2 separate regions of the Homo sapiens genome follow, and region 1 is linked to region 2. The links come from fine-mapping of genetic effects on gene expression. A gene starts in region 2. The other region holds a variant in brackets. All regions are shown on one strand. Distances are between the middles of the regions. Region 1 has its middle 11 kb from the start of AHCY. Region 2 holds the start of DYNLRB1 (dynein light chain roadblock-type 1).

Region 1 (11,362 bases), 200 kb after region 2:
TAAGTTACTATTTCTCTACCCCACCTCACATATAAATTGTGTATTCAGTGAAAGGCTGATCAAAGATTCAAAAGGATGTAATCATTTGTCTCTTATCTAGCCACATCTTTAAAAAATTTCTTCCTCTCCCCCAATATCCACCCCTTCCCCTGTAAATACTGAAGTCCTCAAAATCACCTTTCGAGAAAGGCATAAACCTGCCTCCTTGGTACACATCCTTAACTTTGGCAAAGAAACCTCCTAAAATGATTGAGACTTGGCTTGGTCATTTTCATTGACTTACATCTTTTTTTTTTTTTGAGACGGAGTCTTGCTGTGTCACCCAGGCTGGAGTGCAGTGACACAGTCTCAGCTGACTGCAACCTCTGCCTCCCGAGTTCAAGCGATTCTCCTGCCTCAGCCTCCCGAGTAGCTGGGATTACAGTCACTCACCACCACACCCAACTAATTTTTTTTTTTTTTGTGAGACGGAGTCTGGCCCTGTCGCCCAGGCTGGAGTGCAGTGGCATGATCTCGGCTCACTGCAAGCTCCACCTCCTGGGTTCACACCATTCTCCTGCCTCAGCCTCCCAAGTAACTGGGACTACAGGCGCCTGCCACTATGCCCAGCTAAATTTTTGTATTTTTAGTAGAGACGGGGTTTCACTGTGTTAGCCATGATGGTCTCGATCTCCTGACCTCGTGATCCACCCGCCTCAGCCTCCCGAAGTGCTGGGATTACAGGCTTGAGCCACCACGCCCGGCCACACCCAACTAATTTTTGTATTTTTAGTAAAGACGGGGTTTCACCATGTTGGCCAGGCTGGTCTCAAACTCTCAACCTTAAGTGATCCACCCACTTCGACCTCCCAAAGTGTTGGGATTACAGGCATGAGCCACTGAACCTTTTTTTTTTTTTTTTGAGATAGGGTCTTATTCTGTCTCTCAAGCTGGAGTTCAGTGGCATGATCACAGCTCACAGTAGCCTTGACCTCCCGGGCTCAGGTGATCCTCCTACTTCAATTATCTTTACATTAGGTAAAGATTATCTTTACAGGTAGGTGCCACCATGCTTAGATAATTTTTGCAAAGACAAGTTTTGCCATGTTTCCCAGGCTGGTCTTAAACTCCCGGGCTCAAGCAATCTGCCAGACTTGACCTCCTAAAGTGTTGGGATTACAGGTGTGAGCCACTGCTCCCAACCATTTATTGATTTACATCTTCTAGAACCTTGTCACTCCCCCATCAACAGCTAGTTGCTGCACTTTGGATGTTTGTCTTCTCAAACTTTATGTTGAAAGTTGATCTCCAATGTTAGAGGTGGGGCCTAATGGGAGGTATTTGGGTCATGGGGGTGGATCCCTCATGAATGGCATGTTGCCATTCTCATGTTAATGAGGAAGTTCTCGCTCTATTAATTTCCACAAGAGCTGATTGTTAAAAGAACCTGGCACCTTCCCCCTCTCTCCTCCATCCATTCTCTCACCGTGTGATGTCTGCACAGGATGGCTCCCTTTTACCTTCTGCTATGAGTGGAGCAGCCTGAAGCCCTCACCAATCACCAGAAGCAGATGTGGGCACCATGCTTCTTGTACAGTCTGCAGAATCATGAGCCAATAAACTGATACAGCAGGTAGAAAGGAATTATTTAGGCAGATAGTGAGGGCAAAACAGTCCTCTACAGAGCATCCCTTTTAACAAAAAGCAGCTCAAGAAATTATTTTTTTCTAACAAAGAGAAGCCTGAAAAATTGAGCTGCAAACATAGATAAGCAAGCTGGAAGCTTGCATGGGGAAATGCTGGCAGCTGTGCCAATAAAATTGGGCTACCTAGGCACCAGGGATATCCAACAGGGAGGCTCCATCTTTCCTTTGTTATCACGTGTACAGTAAAGGAATGGGCAACATGGGTAACAGGCCAGGCAAAGAACCTACCTGCATAGTAAAAGATAAGGGTGGGGGCTACCAGAAATTTGTGCCCTATGCAAATGGCATACCTGGTCCAACCAATCTTTCACACCCTATGTAAATCAGACACTGTCTCCTCACCAGGCATCTATAAACTCCCTTGCATTTCACCATGGATCTGGCAACCCATTTCTCTGGGACCCCTCTCTCCAGCAGAAAGCTATTCCCTTTCTTCCGCCTATTAAACTTCTGCTCTTAACCTCACTCTTTGTGTGTCCGTGTCCTTTATTTCCTCAGCTGTGAGACAACAAACCTCAGGTATCACCCCCCAGACAACAAGGCTGCTTCAAAACCACTTTTCTTGATAAGTTACCAAGCCTCAGGTATTCCTTTATAGCAACATAAATGAACTAAGACAATAGTGTATGGCCCCTTCTCTTGAACTTGGGTGGGGCTTTGTGACTACCTCAACTAAATATGATGGAAGTGATGCCACATGACTTCAAAGTCTAGGTCATAAATGGTGATACAACTTATGCCTGGCTCTCTCTCTTAGGATGCTTATCCTTGGAACCCTTGGAACCCAGCTACCATGCTGTGTGGAAGCCCAGGCCACATGGAGAATCCACATATCATATCCTTGCTGGAAGCCCCATCTGAGGTCCCAGGTAGCCAGCATCAACTGGCTATCAGGAGATCTTCAAGCTGACTCCAGCCCAGCCACCACCAGACTGCAGCCATATGAGAGACCTTGAGCAAGAATGGCCTAGCTGAGTCCAATCAATGCTCCCTCCCCAAGAAACAAAAGAAATGAATAATAAATGATTGTTGTGGCCAGGCCTGGTGGCTCATGCCTGTAATCCCAACACTTCGGGAGGCCAAGGCAGGTGGATCGTGAGGTCAGGAGTTCAAGACCAGCCTGGCCAAGATGGTGAAACCCCATCCCTACTAAAAATACAAAAATGAACCAGGCACCAGTAATCTCAGCTACTTGGGAGGCTGAGGCAGAGAATCACTTAAACCCGGGAGGCGGAGGTTGCAGTGACCTGACATTGCGCCACTGCACTCTAGCTTGGGTGACAGAGCGAGACTCCGTCTCAGAAAATAATAAATAAATAAATAAATAAATAAATAATTGTTTTATGCCAATAAATATGGGTGGTTTGTTATGCAGCAAAGAATCACTGAGGCCAGGGCAGAGAATTACCCACAATCAGCCTCAGACCATGATGGGGAGGTGATGCCAATCTTTGTCCCTTTCTGGACCCTCTGCTTTTACCCCCAAGGTCCAGGATCTCAGACCACAACTCCCCATGATGGGCTCCTTCATAGCAAGTGAACACCGGCACAGCAATCTCCCTATATGGGCATGAGCTCTCCAGGCCCCAGGCTCTCATCCACAGTTGACTCTGTGGTACTTTAGGCAGGTGCTCATCCCTCAGTTTTCTCTTCTGTAAAATGCACTGTCTGATGATCCCAGCCCTGCCCACTCACACAGAGGCTATGAGGAGCCATCCTTGAAGCTGAAGTTTAAGGGGTTATTGTCAATGTTTGCATTTTAAGATCCAGGTTGGCAACTAGAACCACACAATGTCCTAAAAAGACATTTCAGGACTATCATATTCAGCATTCTATATATTATAGAAGGGGAAACTGAAATATTAATTGTGAACACAGTCCTGGCACTGAATAAATGCTTATGAATATGAGGAGGTGCGAGAAGGGAGAAACAGGCAGCACTGGCCGAAGGATCCAACTCTTATTTCTTGAGAAGCCTCACTACTGCCCTCCTCCTTCTCTCTGCTCCTACGGTTCCCTGCCCATCGCCCCTTCCCCTTTTGGGTTGCCCCTCTGCCCAGGCCTGGAATGGGCACCTGGTGTGAACTCCTGAACTTGGGATGCCAGCCCTGGCTGATTTGCCTCCCTAAAGGCTCACTCCACCATCCTCTCAAGAGCTGTTGCCTTAGAACACTTCCTCCATGTGCTTACAATAAAAGGCATTTGAGAAGAAACCCATGGCTCTCCAAGATGACTCATTTCCTGGGAGGCATTGGAGCCCTGGGGTGCTGGTTGGGATGACCGCCTGAGCCACTCTTGCTGTTGCCCTTAGCACTTCAGCCTTCTCCATATTCTCCACCTCCAAGGCAGGACAAGGGAAACTGAGTCACCAGAGTCACAAGATCAGGCTTCCGCCCCACCTATCTCCCCCATCTTCTCTTCCCCTTTCCATCTGTATTAGACTCCCAGAGCTGCCATTATGAAGTACCACGCATTTGGTGGCTTACAACAACAGAAATTTATTCTCTCACAGTTCTGGAAGCCAGAAGTCCAAAATCAAGGCATTGGCAGGGTGGGTTCCTTCTGGAGGCTCTGAGGAGAGTCTGTTCCCTGCTTCTATCCTGGTTTCTGGTGACTGCTGGCAATCCCAGGTTTCCTTGGCTTGTAGATGCATCACTCAATCTGCTTCTGTCTTCACCGTGTGGTCTTCTCTGTGTCTGTCTTCTTCCCTTTCCTTGTGTTGTAAGGACACTTGATGCTGGATTTAGGGGACACCTTAATCCAGAATTGTCTCAACTCAAAATCCTTAACTTAATTACATCCACAAAGACTTTTCTTCCAAATAAGGTCACATTTGCAGATTCTAGGTGAACATATCCTTTGGGAGGAGGGCCATCATTTAACTCAGAACACCTCTTTTCCCCGTATTTCTGGAATAAGGTAGAAAACCCTCCTAGTTCCTGGAAATTGGCAATTGACAGTGTTAGTGGTTCCTGGAGTAGCCCCTTCCTGTGGATCCTACTCCTGTTTTTGGCTGGATGGGTTCAACTCCATTAGGAAGAGAGCAGGGTATGTGAGGTGGCCTCACTGACATCAGCAATAGGAAGAAGACAAAAGGAGGAGATAGGTAAATCATAAGCAACACAAGAATCCTGCAACGTGAGGACATTGAATGTAGAGGAAAATGACTCAGTTGGTGCTATGCAAATGAGAACCAAGGTTATTTAATGACAACCAATGCTCATTGGGATGATCCTGGTCCACTGAGAAAACTTCAAGTCAGGGATCAACAACCGATATGGGCCAGGGATGGGGACATATGTTGGCCTCGAGAACTTATGCATCATTCAAAGAAGGCAGCTAACATTTAGCTCACCCACCCATTGCTATGACAACATAAGTCTAGTTGCTAGATAATTTTCTCAAGAGAAGCTGGAAATATGGGGCTCCATGCAAACTCCCCCAGTTTTTATATTTATTTATTTATTTGAGACAGAGTCTCGCTCTGTCGCCCAGGCTGGAGTGTAGTAGCATGATCTCTGCTCACTAAAAACTCCACCTCCCAGATACAAGTGATTCTCCTGCCTCAGCCTCCCAAGTAGCTGGGATTACAGGCGCCCGCCACCATGCCTGGCTAATTTTCATATTTTTAGTAGAGATAGGGTTTCGCCATGTTGGCCAGGCTGGTCTTGAACTCCTGACCTCAGGTGATCCTCCTGCCTCGGCCTCCCAAAGCGCTGGGATTACAGGCGTGAGCCTCTGTGCCCAGCTATTTTGTCCCCACTTTCTTACTCTGCCATGACTTTGCAAATGTGATTCCCACACCTGCACAGTTCTCTCTCTACCTGACTCATTTTGAAGACTTTGGTGGACGCCTCTTCCTCTGAGAGGTTTCCACAGCCCCTAGGCCTAGTGAGTCACCCTCTCCCTCCACCTTGGACTCTCTGCTCTGACCTGCCCTGGCATCCATGATCTGTGTCGTGAACATTGGTGAGTCTTTTTTCCCCACTGGCTAGGAAATTCCTTGAGAGCAGGGCCCAGGTCTGAGTCATCTGTGTTGCCTGCCCTGAGTGGGCAGTTAACAATGTTTGTGGGATCAATGGAAGGGAAGAGGAAGGGAGTGGTGTCACAAACAGCTCTCAGATTACTAGCTGAATCTTGGGCTCCAGGTATCTGGCAGTTAAAGCACAGGTCAATGTTATAGGGATGATCTTAGCCGGATGTGGTGGCTCACGCCTGTAACCCCAGCACTTTGGGAGGCCAAGGTGGGAGGATCGCTTAAGCCCAGGAGTTTGAGATCAGTATTGGCAACATAG[T/C]GAGACCCTTACTCTACAAAAATTTTTTAAAAAATAAAAAGAGCTGATTTTTGTCTAACCTAACAGAGTGTGTGCAAAGGTGAGGGTCTGAATATGTGTGAGTACTTGAGAATGTGTGAATGTATGTATGAAGTGTATGAGTGTGGATATACATGTGTGTGTGTTTGAGACGGAGTCTCGCTGTGTCGCCCAGGCTGGAGTGCAGTGGTGCGATCTTGGCTCACGGCGACCTCTTCCGCTGGGTTCAAGCTATTCTCCTGCCTCAGCCTTCTAAGTAAGTAGCTGGGTCTACAGGTGTGTACCAGCATGCCCCGCTAATTTTTGTATTTTTAGTAGAGACGGGTTTCACCATGTTGGCCAGGCTGGTCTCGAACTCCTGACCTTCAGTGATCCACCTGCCTTGGCCTCCCAAAGTGCTGGGATTACAGGCATGAGCCACCGCACCTGGCCTTATTTCTGTAGTATGTATGTACATAGGTGCATGAGCATGAGTATTCGTGTGTGATGGTGGGATGTGTGAATGAGTATGTGTTTGAAGGTTTGTATGGATGTATCTGTAGGTGTAAACATGTTCACTGAATGGAACTCCATGGGAGCAGGGACTTTGTCTTGTCCTGTTTTTTTGTCCTTGCCTCTAGCACACTCAAATGAACATGTCTGGCATGGGGGTTGCAGCAGGGAGCATGATTGCAGGAAGGGTAGCCCAGTGGTTACCAGCAGCGACTCTGGAGTCAGACAGCATTGGTGCTTCCTAACTGTGGGCAAATCAACCACTAGGAGCCTCAGTTTTTCCATGTGTTAAATGGGTACCTACCTTATAGGGTAGCATCTATAAAGTAGGGCAACATCTACCTTACAGGGAAGTTCAAAGAGCTTAGAATTGTGTGTGGAGCATTGGATATAATAAATTTGGACTAGTATCATTATCCTGGGTGTCACTGTCAACACCCAGCAGTCCCAACAATGTGGCTTATGCCTGTAGTCCCAGCACTTGGGAGGCCGAGGTGGAAGGATTGCTTGACCCCAGGAGTTTGAGACCAGCCTGAGCAACATAGTGAGACTTTGTCTCAAAAAAAAAAAAAAAAAAAAAAAAAAAAAGCTGGATGTGGTGATGCATGCTTGTAGTCCCAGCTACTGGGGAGGCTGAAGCAGGAGGATTGCTTGAGCTCAGGAGTTTGAGGCTACAGTGATCTCTGATGGTGCCATAGCATTCCGGCCTGAACAAGAGTGACACCCTGGCTCAACAAAACAGAACAGAACAAAAACATCCCGACAAATGCTTCCAAGGGCTAAAGCCCCTTCAAAACAAGTCCAAAGACCACTTACTAGCAACATTCATTGCTCTTCTCTGAACCTCAGTTTCTTCCTATGGGAGGGAGCGATAAGCTGTACTTTGCTTTCTCCCAGGGCAGCTGGGAGGTTATCATCACAGCGCTCCAAATCCTGCCCCTGGAGGGAAGAGTTTGCACTGCAGCAGTCTGAAGCCAAAGCTGGGAGCAGGGTGCCCTCTCCTGGCACAGTGGAGTCAAGGGCGACTCCAGCTGCAGGGCACAGGCTGACCTCGGAGGTCCAGGGGTGCTATCCGCAAAGGAAGGTGGGCAAAATGGAGCCGTCTGGGGAGGGCACCTTACAGCTCCCTACTCTTGCAGCGTGGAGCCCGTGCTCCCTTTCTGTGGACTGAGCTCCTCTGCCTCAGATCTCGCTCCAAGGACGTCTCCCACCCTGCCCCCGCCCCGTCAGACTGGACCAACCCCCCACTCCTCCCCATTACAAGTTCTCAGAGTGTTCCTTTTGCTTTTCTATCATCTGAGAAATGAAGGGCAGGGGCAGAACCCCTGGCTGTGTGACTCCTAAGGTCCCTGGACGAGGCTCTTAGCAAATATTAGGATAAAAGGGGCGTGGAAGCTCAGACAAGGCTGGGAAGTGAACCCAGAGGCCATCCAGCCCCACTGGGGAACGATCCAGCCTCAGCGGGGGACGTCAGAGACCTGGATTAGGGGACTCCCTGGCTCCACCCTGAGGAGAGCCAGGACTGTGGGCTGAAGCCAAGGGGCACCACAGCGTGGGTTCCGGGGCAGACATCTGGGAACATTAATTCATTCCCAAATATTGTGTGCAGTCTGTGTGCCAGGCACTGAGCTGGACCCTGGGGACACAGCAGCTGGCAAAGCCATACAGGTTTCTGTCCCTCCTGGAAGTAATGGGACAGGCACATAATCAGATGATTTCGATATAATGATATAGAACCACACCACCTCACATCCCCCTTTCGGGGTGCCTCTTAAAGCCTGTCGCTTAGAGATGGCCCGCGGCTAGGGAGGGGCGCTCTCTTATATTCTACGAGTCTGGAGGGCTCCCCCAACGGAAGAAACCCGCGGATGGGTGGGCCGGCAGCTCCTGGGACGCCCGACTCACAGCGGAGCCGCGTGGGATGAGAAGGATTGAGGGAGAGAGGGGGGCCCTGTCCCAGGGTCTCTAAGAAGTCCCCCACCTCTGTACTCCCCAGCCCAGCGGTGACTTCGAGGTGGGCCCAGGGGGCCTGGAGGGAGGGGCGTGGATACAGCGGGAAAGGAGAGACCCCTAGCGGGGTGGACAAGAAGGGAGGAACTCCACAGAACTGCTTAATCCGGCTCCATCCCCATCAGCGGGCTTTCTCAGCGCCTGCACCCCTCTCTATCCCATCTCGAAGCCTCCAGTTAATCCAGAGTGAGACGCAGGACCGCCGGGAGGCGAGCGGGGATGCTGAAGCTAGGGCAGGCTAAAGCCCCGCGGCCAAAGGGCAGGCTTGTGCGCCCTCCGCCCCCTCTCCGCCCCCTCTCCGCCCCTCCGCGCCCAGGACCTAATTGTTTGCAAAAGCAAACACGGAAAAGGCAGGTACAAAGGTCGGGAGGAGGGACCGGGACCTGCTTCTGCCTGGGGTTTCGACCTTCCCGCCAGAAGCTCCACTGGGGCCTGGACCTGGAGAAGGGACATCAACAGTTAACGTCCAGGGCAGCTTTCAGCGGCGTGGGCGGGGATCCCCAGGGAAGCACTGTTAGCAGTTTCTTGTACATCCAGCCTGGTATATTTTCTGCATGTATAGGCAAATACCTGTTTGTGTGTTCTTTTCTTTCTTTTACATAAATAATCGCATACTAGGCGCACCGTTCTGCACTTTGCTTTTTGTCCTTCATTATATGTTTTGTTGTTGGTTTTGTTGTTGTTGTTGTTTTGTTTGTTTTTTAGACAGAGTCTCACTCTGTTGCCCAGGCTAGAGTGCAGTGGCACAATCTCGGCTCACTGCAACCTACCGGGCTCAAGCGATTCTCCTGCCTCAGCCTACTGAGTAGCTGGGATTACAGGTGTGTGCCACCACGCCCGCCTAATTTTTGTATTTTTAGTAGAGATGGGATTTCGCCATGTTGGCCAGGCCGATCTCGAACTCCTGACCTCAGGTGACCCGCCCGAATCAGCCTTCCAAAGTGCTGGGATTACAGACATGAGCCACCACGCCCGACTGTCGTTTTTTTAAAATACGGACAGGGTCTCGCTTTGTTGCCCAGGCAGAGTGCAGTGGCGCTTAGGCCTCAGGCTTGGGCCATCGCACTGGGCCACCATATCTTGAAGATCATTCTATATTGTTAGATAAACAGCTCATTTAAACAAAAAAATGGCTATCTGCATATTCCATCATGTGGACTGTACCAATATTTATTTAACAAGTCTTCCATGGAAGGACAGTCTTTTGTTCTTAACGTCATTTTGCTCATGTGTACAAACATCTTTGGAATAAATTCCTAGAAGTGGAACTGCTTGGTCAAAGGGCATGCGGGTTTGTAATCTTGTTAGTTATTACCAGAGTGTTGTTCATTAAGGTTGTGCCAATGTACAATCCCAAAACCAAAGTATGAGGAGGCCTGTTTCCCCACACTCTTACCAATAGTATGTTATTAAACTGTAAACTTTTTATCCATGTGATAGTAAACTTAAAAATAAAATTAATCAGCCGGGCATGGTGGCTCACGTCTGTAATCCCAGCACTTTGGGAGGCCAAGGCAGGTGGATCACGAGGTCAGGCGTTCAAGACCAGCCTGGCCAACATAGTGAAACCCCATCTCTATTAAAAATAAAAATAAAAATAATTAGCTGGGCGTGGTGGCAGGCGCCTGTAATCCCAGCTACTTGGGAGGCTGAGGCAGGAGAATCGCTTGAACCTGGGAGGTGGAGGTTGCAGTGAGCCAAGATCGCGCCACTGCATTCCAGCCCGGGTAACAGTGTGAGACTCTGTCTCAAAAAAAAAATTCATCATTCAATTTCCCCAAGCCACATAGGGAGCCTGGACTTTCACCCCCAACCTGGCACTAAGAAGGCACCCCTCCACCTCCATGGTTCTTCTATTGTTTCCTTCCTTCCCTTCCCTCCCTCCTTCCCTTCCTTCCTTCCTTCTTTCCTTCCTTCCTCCCTCCCTCCTTCCCTCCCTACCTCCTTTTCTCCCTCCCTCCTTCCTTCTGTCCTGCTCCTCCTCTCTCTTTTCTTTTCTCTTTTTTCTTTCTTTAATTAATTAATTCACTTATTTATTTTGAGACAGAGTCTTGCTCTTGTAGCCCAGGCTGGAGTGCAATGGCACGATCTCGGCTCACTGCAGCCTCCCCTTCCTGGGTTCAAGCGATTCTCCTGCCTCAGCCTCCCAAGTAGCTGGGATTACAAGTGCCTGCCACCACGCCCGGCTAATTTTTGTATTTTTAGTGGAGACAGGGGTTTCCTCTTGAAATCCTGACCTTGTGATCTGCCAGCCTCGGCTTCCCAAAGTGCTGGGATCACAGGCATGAGCCACTGTGCCTGGCCTAATTTTTTATTTTAAGAGAGGAGGTCTTGCTGTTAATATATTGCTCGGGCTGGCCTTGAATTCCTGGGCTCCAGCGATCCTTCCAACTCACAAGTAGCTGAAGTTACAGGGCGCACCAAAACTCCTGGCTCATTTTCATTATTAATGATAAAAGGTCAATCCACTAAGAAAACATAGCACTCCGAAGTGTGTATGTATGGAAAACAGAGCTGCAAAATATGTGAAGCAAAAACTAATAGATAGAAATAGATAAATCCGGCCAGGCGTGGTGGCTCACGCCTGTAATCTCAACACTTTGGGAGGCCAAGGCAGGTGGATCACTTCAGGTCAGGAGTTCGAGACCAGCCTGGCCAACATGGTGAAACCCTGTCTCTACTAAAAATACAAAAATTAGCCGGGTGTGGTGGTGCATGCCTGTAATCCCACTTATTTGGGAGACTGAGGCAGGAGAATCACTTGAACTCAGGAGGCGGAGGTTGCAGTGAGCTGAGAGTGTGCCACTGTACCCTAGCTTGAGCAGCAGAGGGAGACTCCATCTCAAAAAAAAAAAAAAAAAA
Region 2 (11,362 bases):
GAAATGAGGGAGTTAGCCATGCCGGTTTCTGGGGAGTGTTCCAGACAGCACCAAGAGCAAGCACAAAAGCCCTGGGGTGGGCAAGCATCCGGTATGTTCAGGGGGAAAAGCAAAGGGGCCACTGTGGCTGAAGGGCAGGGAGCAGGGGAGGGACAGCAGCTGGGATCCGGGACCAGACCACAGACGGCCTGGCAGATCAAGTGTTGACCTTGGTTTTCACTGGGCGTGATTCATGGAGCCACTGTCAAGTTTTGAGGTAAAGAGTGACAAGACCTGATGCTTCCAAAGGACGGCTCTGGCTGCTGTGGGGAGAAGGGACAGCAGGGGGCGAACACAGCCTGCGGAAGCCTCCTACCCCTGCCCTGCCAGGTGCTGCTCTCGGTCTGAAGGAAACAAGCTTCCCTCCTTCACTCACTGCTTGATGTAACTACCTCCCAACCCTTTGGACTCAGCTCCAGAGCCCGCAGGAGGCTTCTCTGACATCAGCCCCTCTACTGGGCACCGAGGCCCCCAGCCTTCGCAGCACTGACCACAATGCAGTGCAACTGTTTAGGTCACGTTCATCTCCTCCTCCAGACGCAAGGCACCCTGGAATCAGGAAACCAGACCAGACTTTATAGCCCCAGTACCTCGCATAGGATAGGCTCAATAAATACTGAAGGAACAAATAAAAAGCATTTCTGCAACTATGTTTCACGAAATCAACCTTTTTAAGTACAGGAGGGGGACATGGCCTCACAGTCCACAGTGTGAAAAAGAGCTAAGGTTTAGGTGATCTGAAACTCAACGAGAACCAGATACTAAGATCTGGCTGTTTAAAAGTAAACATGGGCTGGGCACAGTGGCTCATGCCTGTAATCCCAGCACTTTGGGGGACCAAAGCAGGTAGACTGCTTGAGCCCAGGAGTTTGAGACCAGCCTGGGCAACATGGTGAAGCTTCGTCTCTACAAAAGATAAAAAAAATTAACCATGCGTGGTGTCGTGTGCCTGCAGTCCCAGCTAGTTGGGAGGCTGAGGTGAAAGGATTGCCTGAGCCCAGGAGGCCGAGGCTGCAGTGAGCCATGATCGCGCCATTGCACTCCAGCCTGGAAAACAGAGTGTAAGACTCATCAAAAAAAAAAAAAAAAAAAAAAGAAAAAGAAAAAAGAAAGAAAGAAAAAAGAAAAGTAAACACACATCTCACACATCTATCAGGAATGGGAGGACACATAGGTATAATTTCCCTACTCAGCGCCTACTATGGGTCATATATTGCTTTCAGACACATGCTCTCTTCTGAAACTCCCATTCATGGGTTAGTATGATCTCCATGTTAGTGATGGGGAAACAGGTTTGGAAAGGAGAAGGGTTTTGCCCAAGAACACACTGCAGGTCAACAGAAGAGCTGAATATACTGGTGACCACAACTGAGGAGGTCCCTGCCCTCAGGGAGCTCACATTCTGGTGAAAGAGACTTAAACAAGTGAGCAAGATTCTTGCAGGATACAGGGACTAGGCTGTGGGGCAAGGGATGCTACTCTGGCTAATGTGGTCAGGAACACCTGAGGAGATGTAATCTTTTTTTTTTTTGAGATAGGGTCTCACTCTGTCACCCAGGCGTGCCATGGTTCGATCATGGCTCACTGCAGCCTTGACCTCCCAGGCTCAAGTGATCCTCCCACTTCAGCCTCCCGAACACGTGGGACTACTGATGTGTACTGCCAAACCCAGCTAATTTTTTGTAGAGATGGGGTTTCGACATGTTGCCCAGGCTGGTCTTGAACTCCTGGGCTCAAGTGATCTACTGCCTTGGCCTCCCAAACTGTTGGGACTACAGGCGTGAGCCACCATTCTCGGCCATAAGTATGTCATCTTTAAGCCAAGAATCAAATGATGAGAAAGAAATGCACTCTGGGCAATGGGATGATGGAGACAAGGTTCCCCAATTCTCTAGTTCCCAGATGCACATTCCTGACACATGGAAAAACAAGCAGCAATAAAGATCCAGGAGGATCCATTGGCTCAGCATAGGAGGGATGACCACTGGAAGCAAATGACTGACAAAGAACTATGACCAATTTGACCACTAAACATAAAACTTCTGTATAAGAATAACTAATCTAACAGGATAGAAAAGTATTTGCATCAAATATAACAGACAAAATAAATAAAAAAAAAACACAAAATGACTAAGAACAATAGCAAGTCTCTAGTAGGTAGTGCACAAAAGAATACTAGTAGAAAATATGCCTACGAGAAATTACAATCACATCAAACCATGGTCATCATCCCTCACAAACAAATGAAAAATTCAGCTGGGCGTGGTGCTCACACCTGTAATCTCAGCACTTTGGGAAACTGAGGTGGGTGAATCACTTGAGGTCAGGAGTTTGAGACCAGCCTGGCCAACATGGGGAAACCCTGTCTCTACTAAAAATACAAAAATTAGCCGTCATGGTGGCATGGGCCTGTAATCCCAGCTACTCAGGAGGCTGAGGCAGGAAAATTGCTTGAACCTGGGAGGCAGAGTTTGTAGTGAGCTGAGATCGTGCCCTCCAGCCTGGGCAACAGAGTGAGATTCCATTTCAAAAAAAAAAGACAGAAATGAAAAATTATAGCAATGCTGAGGTTTATTTTTAAATGCTGGCATTGTTATTACAAAACTGGCAGGTGCAAGGGCAATACAATCTTGACAAAGCTACAGGACAATATATTGCAAGAACCATAAAAGCACTGGTCCTTCCACCTCAGAAATTATTTTCCTAAGAATTTTATCCTGAGGAAATAATCTAATAAGTAAGTTAAAATGAAACAAAACAAGATATTCACAGAAGCATCATCACAGCACTATTTCTACTAATTAAGAAATGGAAGCAGCCAGGTATGGTGGCTCATGCCTGTAATCCTGGCACTTTGGGAGGCTGAGGCAGGCGGATCACCTGAGGTCAGGAGTTTGAGACCAGCCTGGCCAACATGGCGAAACCCTGTTTCTACTAAAAAATACAAAAATTAGCTGGGCGTCATGATGCACACCTGTTAATCCCAGCTACTCAGGAGGCTGAGGCAGGAAAATCACTTGAACCTGGGAGGCAGAGGTTGCAGTGAGCTGAGATTGAGCCACTGAACTCCAGTCTGGGCAACAGAGTGAGACTCCATCTCTAAAACAAACAAACCAAAAAGAAATGGGAGCAACCCAAATGTACACAGGTAAGATATTTGGCCAATTATGGTACAACTATTTCACCGAGTATTATGTAGTCACTAAGTAGTTAATCACAAAGATGATATGACAACAAGGTTAAATGTTTTTGGATATTAAAACAACAAAAAAAGAAAAAAATCCCCCCAAAACTCAGCATGCATTATCTTGGAAAATATGCATATGTGAACAAAAGAGGAAGGAGAACATACAAAGATGAAAATAGTTATGTGGCACAGTGAAACTGGACGAGGAGAATTATATGTGATTATTTTTTAATTTTATTTATTTATTTTGAGACAGAGTCTTGCTCTGTTGCCCAGGCTGGAGTGCACTGGCCTGGTCTCGGATCACTGCAACCCCCGCCTCCCGGGTTCAAGCGATTCTAGTGCCTCAGCCTCCTGAGCAGCTGGAATTACAGATGCACGGCTTCCGGCTACTTTTCGTATTTTTAGTAGAGACAGAGTTTCACCATGTTGCCCAGGCTGGTCTCCAACTCCTGACCTCAAGTGATCTGCCCACCTTGGCCTCCCAAAGTGCTGGGATTATATGCGTCAGCCATTGTGTCCGGCCAATTATAGATGATTTTTATATCATTATTCTAAAGGTCAGTTTCCACCTAAAATGTAAAATATGCAAGCCAAAAGTGCCACTTGTAGAAATCTATCCTACATAACCACTAGCATGAGTGCAAAAAAGACAAGAACAGTTACTGCAGCAGTGTCTGGAATAAAAAAACTATACACCACCTAAATGTACATATGGGACTAGGATACGATACAGACCTTAAAAAGAATGAAGTGGACCTGCATATAATAACACAGAAAAATGTGTGATATTTTTAAGTGAACAGAACAAGTTGCAGAATAAGATATATACATATATATCTTAAAGTCAACTTCTGTTTTCTCTTATTTTTTTCTCACCCAGGGTGGAGTGCAGTGGTGCAGTCACGGCTCACTGTAGCCTTGACCTCCTGGGCTCAGGCGATCTCTCCACTTCAGCCTTAAAGTAAAGTTAACATATACAAATATATATATATTCCAGTTTCATCTAATAAACAGCTTATACATAAATGTGCTTATGCACCAAACACATCTGGAAGGAAACACACCCAACTGCCAACAGAAGTTGCCACGGGGTAGTAAGATGGGGACCACATAAACTTTCTATATTATATCCTCTGGTACTGCTTCAAATTGTTAACATACATGGTGGTTTACGCCCATAATCCCAGCATTTTTGGAGGCGGAGGTGGGCGGATCACCTGAGGTCATGAGTTTGAGACCAGCCTGGTCAACATGGTGAAACCCTGTCTCTACTAAAAATAGAAAAAAAACCCTGTCTCTACCAAAAATAGAAAAATTAGCCAGGCATGGTGGCATGCTCCTGCAGTCCCAGCTACTCCGGAGGCTGAGGCAGGAGAATCACTCGAACCCGGGAGGCAGAGGTTGCAGTGAGCTCAGATCACACCACTGCACTCCAGCCTGGGCGAAAGGGCAAGACTCTGTTTCAAAAGAAAAAAAAAAAAAGTTAAACTAGGCATCTAAATTTGCATTGCTTTTATGAGTATAACCACGGAGTAGCATAATACAGGTTCTAGAAAGCTACAGTTTAAGTAAGAAAAAGGGGGGCCATATAAGTGCTTGTATAGATGCATAAGAAACTAACAGCTGGGTGTGGTGGCTCACGCCTGTAATCCTAACACTTTGGGAGGCCAACGTGGGTGAATCACTTGAGCCCAGGAGTTCAAGACCAGCCTGGGCAACATGGCAAAACCCCAACTCTACAAAAAAAAAATACAAAAAAATTAGCAGGGTGTGGTGGCGTGCACCAGTAGTCCCAGATACTTGGGGAATTAAGGCAGGAGGATCACTTGAGCCCAGGAGGGTCAAGTTTGCAAGAAAAAAAAAAAAAGAAACTAACAATGGTTGTTTCTAAAGGAGGAGAGACTGAGACTGGGGGTTAGGAGAGTGGGAATTTTATTTTTCACTTAGATCCTTTTACATCATTTATTTTTTTACTGTGTGCAAGTATTACCTGTAAACAATCCTAAAATTCGTATGGAACCACAAAAGACTCAGAAAAGCCAAAAGAAGCCTGGACGAAAAGAACAAAGCTTGAGGTATCACACTACCTGATTTCAAAATATACCAGAAAGGTATAGTAACCAAAAGAGCATGGTATTGGTATAAAACACAGACCAATGGAATAGAATAGAGGACCCAGAAATAAATCCACTTATTTACGGCCAACTGATTTTCGACAAAGGCATCGAAAAAACAAAACAAAACAAAAACAACAACAAAAACGAAAAAAAAAACCTACCATAAATCAGCAATACCACTACTGGGTATTTATTCAAAGGAACGGAAATTAGTACATCAAAGGCATCCCTACATCCTCATGTTCATATTGCAGCACTATTCATAATAGCTAAATTATGGAATTAGCGTCCATCAATAGGTAAATGGATAAAGAAAATGTGGGCCAGGCGTGGTGGCTCACGCCTGTAATCCCAGCACTTTGGGAGGCTGAGGCGAGCAGATCACGAGGTCAGGAGATCGAGACCACCGTGTTGAGGCGGACTAACACGGTGAAACCCCGTCTCTACTAAAAATACAAAAAATTAGCTGGGCGTGGTGGTGGGCGCCTGTAGTCCCAGCTACTCGGGAGGCTGAGGCGGGAGAATCACTTGAACCTGGGAGGCGGAGGTGGCAGTGAACTAAGATGGTGCCACTGCACTCCAGCCTGAGCGACAGAGACACACTCCATCTCAAAAAAAAAAAAAAAAAAAGAAATAATGAATGTTTAAGGTGATGGATATTCTATAATAAATATAGCCTGATTTGATCATTACACATCATATGCATGTATCAAAATATTACATGTATATCTACAACATAAATGTGTACAACTATTATATATCAATTTTTTTTACAGCTTAAGAAGTGATGTGAAAAATGAAGTTATACATATTTGAAGCATTATTACATGTTTGTAATGATGTGGAGATATTGTGGTGTAATAATGAAAAACACAGAACCCACAATTGCACATTCAATAGGGGCTAAACTGTATAAACCAAAAACAAGCAAAAAAGACTAGAAGTCATATGACTACTGTAAGTGGTTGCCTCTAGGTGATGACACGGTTTCTTTTTTCAATTTTTTTATTACAAGCTCTAGATTTCTAAATAAGATTTTTGAAAAAGTAATATATTCACATGGCTTAAAATTTGAAACTTTTTCAAATTTTGCCCAAGCTGTGAGGATTACAAACACAAAACCTGTAACGGCGTTGAGAACCCACAGCTGCAGCAAGCAAGGTAGAAAGCAAGCTTTGGGATCCCCAAGAGCAGACCCCGCCCGTTCCTGACTCTGGCACCCAGTCCCAGCGGCTAGAAAGAACCACGCCGACAGAGTGGCGGCCGTCAAGCTTCTAGGGTTCAAATCCATCTCCACTATTTCCTGGGGCAAAGCACTTGGCTTCTCGGGGCGCTGAATAACAGATATGTATAACAAAATGGGACTAAAGATTGTATCTACCTCACAGAGCTGGGAGGAGGCGGAGGAAATACAAGATACATAAAGTGCTTGGCAGAGCCTGCCACAAACTGAGCTCCCGGGAAACGTTGCCAGGGTTGCCATCGCGCACCAAGGCCCCAAAACTCTAGGCTGCAGGGCCGCCGCCCACCCCTCGCCCATCATCTCTTCCTGGCCGAGGCTGGGCTCCCGCTTCCGGTCAAGGGGCAGCGGGATCCGGCGGCCCCGCCTCGGTCAGGCTTTAGAGGCCTCCGCCGCCGGGTTCCACCCTCAAGTCGGCTGGGGCCCGGGCCCGGCCACGCCCAGCCACCACCGATTCCCTGTCCGGAGCTCTGAGATCCCCTCATCCTCGGAAGACTGAAGGCCTGGCGTGGGGTGGTGGGCGGCCGCCAGCCACAAGACCCCGGCGCACGCTCACCATTTCCGACCGATCCGGTAGCCCCGCGTAGCGAACACTTAGCGAGTCCTGTGCCTTTCTGCGCCTGCGCAAAGGTTTCTGTCAAAACGGACAGCTCTAGCTGCCTATCAGGAGCCAGCGTGAGGCGGGGGCGGGCGAGCCGATCTTGGCTCCGCCAGGATTCTTGGAAAATCTGCTTTCCACTGTGGCAAAGCGAAAAGCTAAGGAGCAGTGCGCTAAGCTGTGGAAAATTCCCAACTCCAGCCGTGCAGAAAAGATGCTGGTTCTGGCTGGACGCGGTGGCTTACGCCTGTAATTCCAGCACTTTGGGAGGCCGAGTCGGAAGGATTGCTTGAGCCCAAGAGTTCGAGACCAGCCTGGGCAACATGGAGAGACCCCTTCTCTACTAAAAAATAAACAAAATTAGCCGGGCGTGGTGGCGCGCTCGTGTAGTTCCAGTTACTCCAGAGGCTGAGGTAGGAGGATCGCCTGACCAGGAGTTCGAGGCTGCAGTGAGCCGAGATTGCGCCACTGCACCCCAGCCTGGGCGACAGAGCAAGAGACCCTGACTAAAACAAAACAAAACAAAAACCATGCTGGTTCTCGGTATCGGAAGAGGCTTTCAGTGCTGGTTCTCGGTATCGGAAGAGGCTTTCAGCTCTCAATGGAGGTCTAAGCTGGTTCTGGAGTCCCTGAGTGGAGCGTGGTGGGAGGGTATGAAGGCAAGTGGGACGGTTGCTGAGACCCGCTTTGCGCCCAGACTGAGCCAGAGAGAGGCCCAGGGCCAAAATGCGCTTCGGGATCGGGCAGGCCTGGGGTGGGGCTGGAGTCAGGTACCTCGAGTCTCCGGGTAAGATGCCGTGCAAGCTCGGAGATGAATTGGTTAGGGCTGGCCTGGGAGTCTTTAGAATCCGAGCTCAGCCCCGCCTCGCGTTACCTAGCAGAAGGCACTTCACATCTGTGTGTTCTGTCTTGTTCTCACCTCTGAAAGGGGGACTCTTCCCAGAGCCCTATGTTGTCCTGTTCCGGCAGGCCGCAAACGTTTCTGGGTCCTCTAGGAGTAAATAACTTCTGTTAAAACATGCTGCCGTTTAGTGAACCCTGTGCCACATTACTGTGCTGAACACGCACATAACGTTATCTCCGGTAGCTTCAGGGAAGTATCGGTAACCTCGATACTTTATAAATGCTGTTTCTCCCAGGCACTGTAGCTTGCTGGATTCAACGATGATCTAACTCCAAAGTTTCATTCCACAGTAGCTGCTCTTCAGTGAGGAAGGATTTGGTTCTCCTTCCAGGAGTGTCTGCATGTTAAGAGGATTGACTTTACTGCGAAGAAACCTAGCAGACACCACCGTAACCAGATCAAAGTTAGTATTACTGGCAAGGGGAGATATTGATGCCGTGTGCCCCGATAAAAATGCGTTAAGGGCACATCACCTCCGAGTCATTTTCCACAAAAACTCCCAGCCTTAAACCATGAGAAAATTTCACTAAATCCAGTGTGAGGGATGTTCTACAAGATACCTGTACCCCGCCCCCGCCCCCCAAAATCTCAAAGTCATGAAAGCAAGGAATGAATGCGGAACTGTCACAGATTAGAGGAGTAAGGAGAAAGAAAAATAACATGGGTGGGAAAATTGGTGAAATCTGAGTAAGGGCTGTAGTTTAGTGTTATTTTTACCAGTGTTAATTTATTAGTTTTGGTAATTCTAGCATGGTTATATGGGATCATAACATTGGAGAAAGCTGGGTGAAGACTGTGCAGGAACTCTTAACCATTTTTGCAACAGCTCTGTAAATGTAAAATTATTTCAAAATAAATTTTTAAAAGGACTGGATCCAAAGGAATTTCTATTGAATGCTGGAAACATTAGGAAAGCATTTAGCAAGGGGAAGAAGTGCTGCAGAGACTGGACCCTAAAACATCCTGGAAGATAAGCACTGGAAGAATCACCACTGTCTTGCCCATGGAGAACCAGACTGAGAGGAGTGAAAGGATTTTAACAGATTACAATCCCAGAAGCAAAAAAGAGAATGGCCAATAGTTCATGTGACAGGAGCCAAAATGAGAATGAAGGAGGAGCTGGAATAGGACCAAGAATGTCCCGGAGTGGCAGGCTTAGAGTTTTGGCCCGGCGCAGTGGCTCACACCTGTAATCTCAGCACTTTGGGAGGCCAAGGTGGGCGGATCACGAGGTCAGGAGTTCGAGACCAGTCTGGCCAACATAGTGAAAGCCCCTCTACTAAAAATACACAAAAAATTAGCCGGGGGTGGTGGTGTGCGCCTGTAACCCCAGCTATTCGGGAGGCTGAGGCAGGAGAATCGCGTGAACCCAGGAGGCGGCGGTTGCAGTGAGCCAAGATCGCCCCACTGCACTCCAGCCTGGGCGACAGAACAAGACTCCGTCTCAAAAAAAAGAAAAAAAAGTTTTATTCTGCGGTAATGGAGAAACCACTGTAAAATTTTAGGTAGAGGAGGCATGAGACAGGTCTTCCACAGATAATCCTGAGGTAGTACAGAAGATATACTGGAGCGAGGAGGATGGAAAAATGAAGACAGGATGCTGTTATGGTCAGCCAGATTAGGGAGGAAGCACGTGGGCTGTGGCAATGTTGTCAGCTCTGAGAGAACGGATTTTTAAAAGTTTTGGGGCCAGGCGCGGTGGCTCATGCCTGTAATCCAAACACTTGGGAGGCCAAGGCGGGCGGATCACCTGAGGTCAGGAGTTCGAGACCAGCCTGGCCAACGTGGGGAAACCCCGTCTCTACTAAAAATACAAAAATTAGCCGTGCATTGGTGATGGGCACCTGTAATCCCAGCTACTAGGGAGGCTGAGGCAGAATTACTTGAACCCGGGAGGTGGAGGTTGCAGCGAGCCGAGATTGCGCCACTGCACTCCAGCCTGGGCGACAGAGCGTGACTCCATCTCAAAAAAAAAAAGTTTTGGGGATAGATAGGATTTGGAGACTAATTAAATGGAATGGCAAAATTGGTCACATTCGACTCCCAGTGTTGTGGTAAGTAGCAGTACAACAAAAATGGTAAAGTATGCATGCTTTAGAGTCAAACCATCCTGGATTCCAGCCTGTATTCTTTCTACTTAATAGTTGTGGACATGATTCAATCATTTTGAGCCTCTATTTTCTTGTAAAACAGAGATAATCATTACCAATAACAGGAAGACTAAGTGACACTGCACATAGCATATCTACCAGTGTCCTGCACATAGTGATAAATGTTGACAGTTGTTTTGGTATTAAATGAATATGGGTGTGGTACTGGTTGCTATGATATGGAAGACAAATAGAACAACAGGTCTGAATTAGAAGAAAAATAACAGGAGGGCTGTTTTTAGTGATCTTTCAAGTATGACTACAAATTGTCAAGGTCCTTCCCTGTGGGGTGCTTTGAGGAAATCCTCTTGTCCATAGCCACTCTTTGCTTATTAACAGACCCCTGTGCATAAGTGATCAACAGTGTCCTTCTGGGATTTATGTTTAAGGCCCTCTTTTCCTTGCCAACCAGGAATATTCCCCTGGCTCCTCACTCCAGATATCCTGATCACAAAGGAGTCCTATGAACATGGAAGAATTGACAACTGAAATGGGCTGGGAGAGAGAGCAGCTCCTGTACTGGAGTTACATAATGTGAGACAGACACTTAAAAAGTCCAGAGAACAGCCAGTCAGTCACAGCTGAGTCCCAGTTTGATGATTTGTAGGGTTTGGGATGAGAGCCAATGGCCAGTAAGAACAATTACTTACTGACCATTGACCCTCACTTAGCGGGGCATATTTTTCCCCTTATTCTAAGCCACAATGAAACTAGAGCATTCTAGCAGCTTCCATTGGACAGAATAAACAGGATAGGGTCTACTAACTACTCAGGACCTGGGAGGGGCCTGCAGTTTTTGTCCTCTAGTCCATGTTAGATCAGCCGTATTAAAAAATTCCTCTTCCCTTAGTCTCTCTCCACTGGTTCTGTTTTAAATGAGAGCATAATCACCTGAGCTTCCTAATAAGACAAAGTTCTACTGACGCTGGTAACCAGGTCAGCTTGTTGAGAACAGTCTTGGTAACAGTCTTGACAGCTAGCTAGTTGGTGGTTCTCTACTCAGCACTCATGCCTGTGGTCCCGGTCTTTTAGTTGTCTCAGAAAAGCAATTCATATGGAGGCCTTTATGTTGGTTGATGGCCCCTGCAGATATCTTCATCTTCAACATGGGCACCAAATCCAGT

Evidence for each region.
Region 1: its variant is fine-mapped to the expression of DYNLRB1 in whole blood (TOPMed, PIP 0.96).

Annotation. Positions count from the first base shown.
Region 1 is chr20:34,308,960-34,320,321 of GRCh38, reverse strand. It overlaps a transcript of AHCY not described here. Among named protein-coding and RNA genes, the nearest start is that of AHCY, 11 kb to the right of the region's middle. RefSeq lists an enhancer at 8,126-8,724. The variant T/C (reference allele first, on the strand shown) is at 5,981.
Region 2 is chr20:34,512,242-34,523,603 of GRCh38, reverse strand. It overlaps DYNLRB1 (dynein light chain roadblock-type 1), which reads right to left and starts at 7,182. Exons shown (of 4, transcript NM_014183.4): 1 at 7,143-7,182. The coding sequence starts at 7,145. RefSeq lists enhancers at 167-666, 6,651-6,830, 6,497-7,362, 7,751-7,990, 8,101-8,160 and silencers at 7,181-7,290, 10,626-10,920.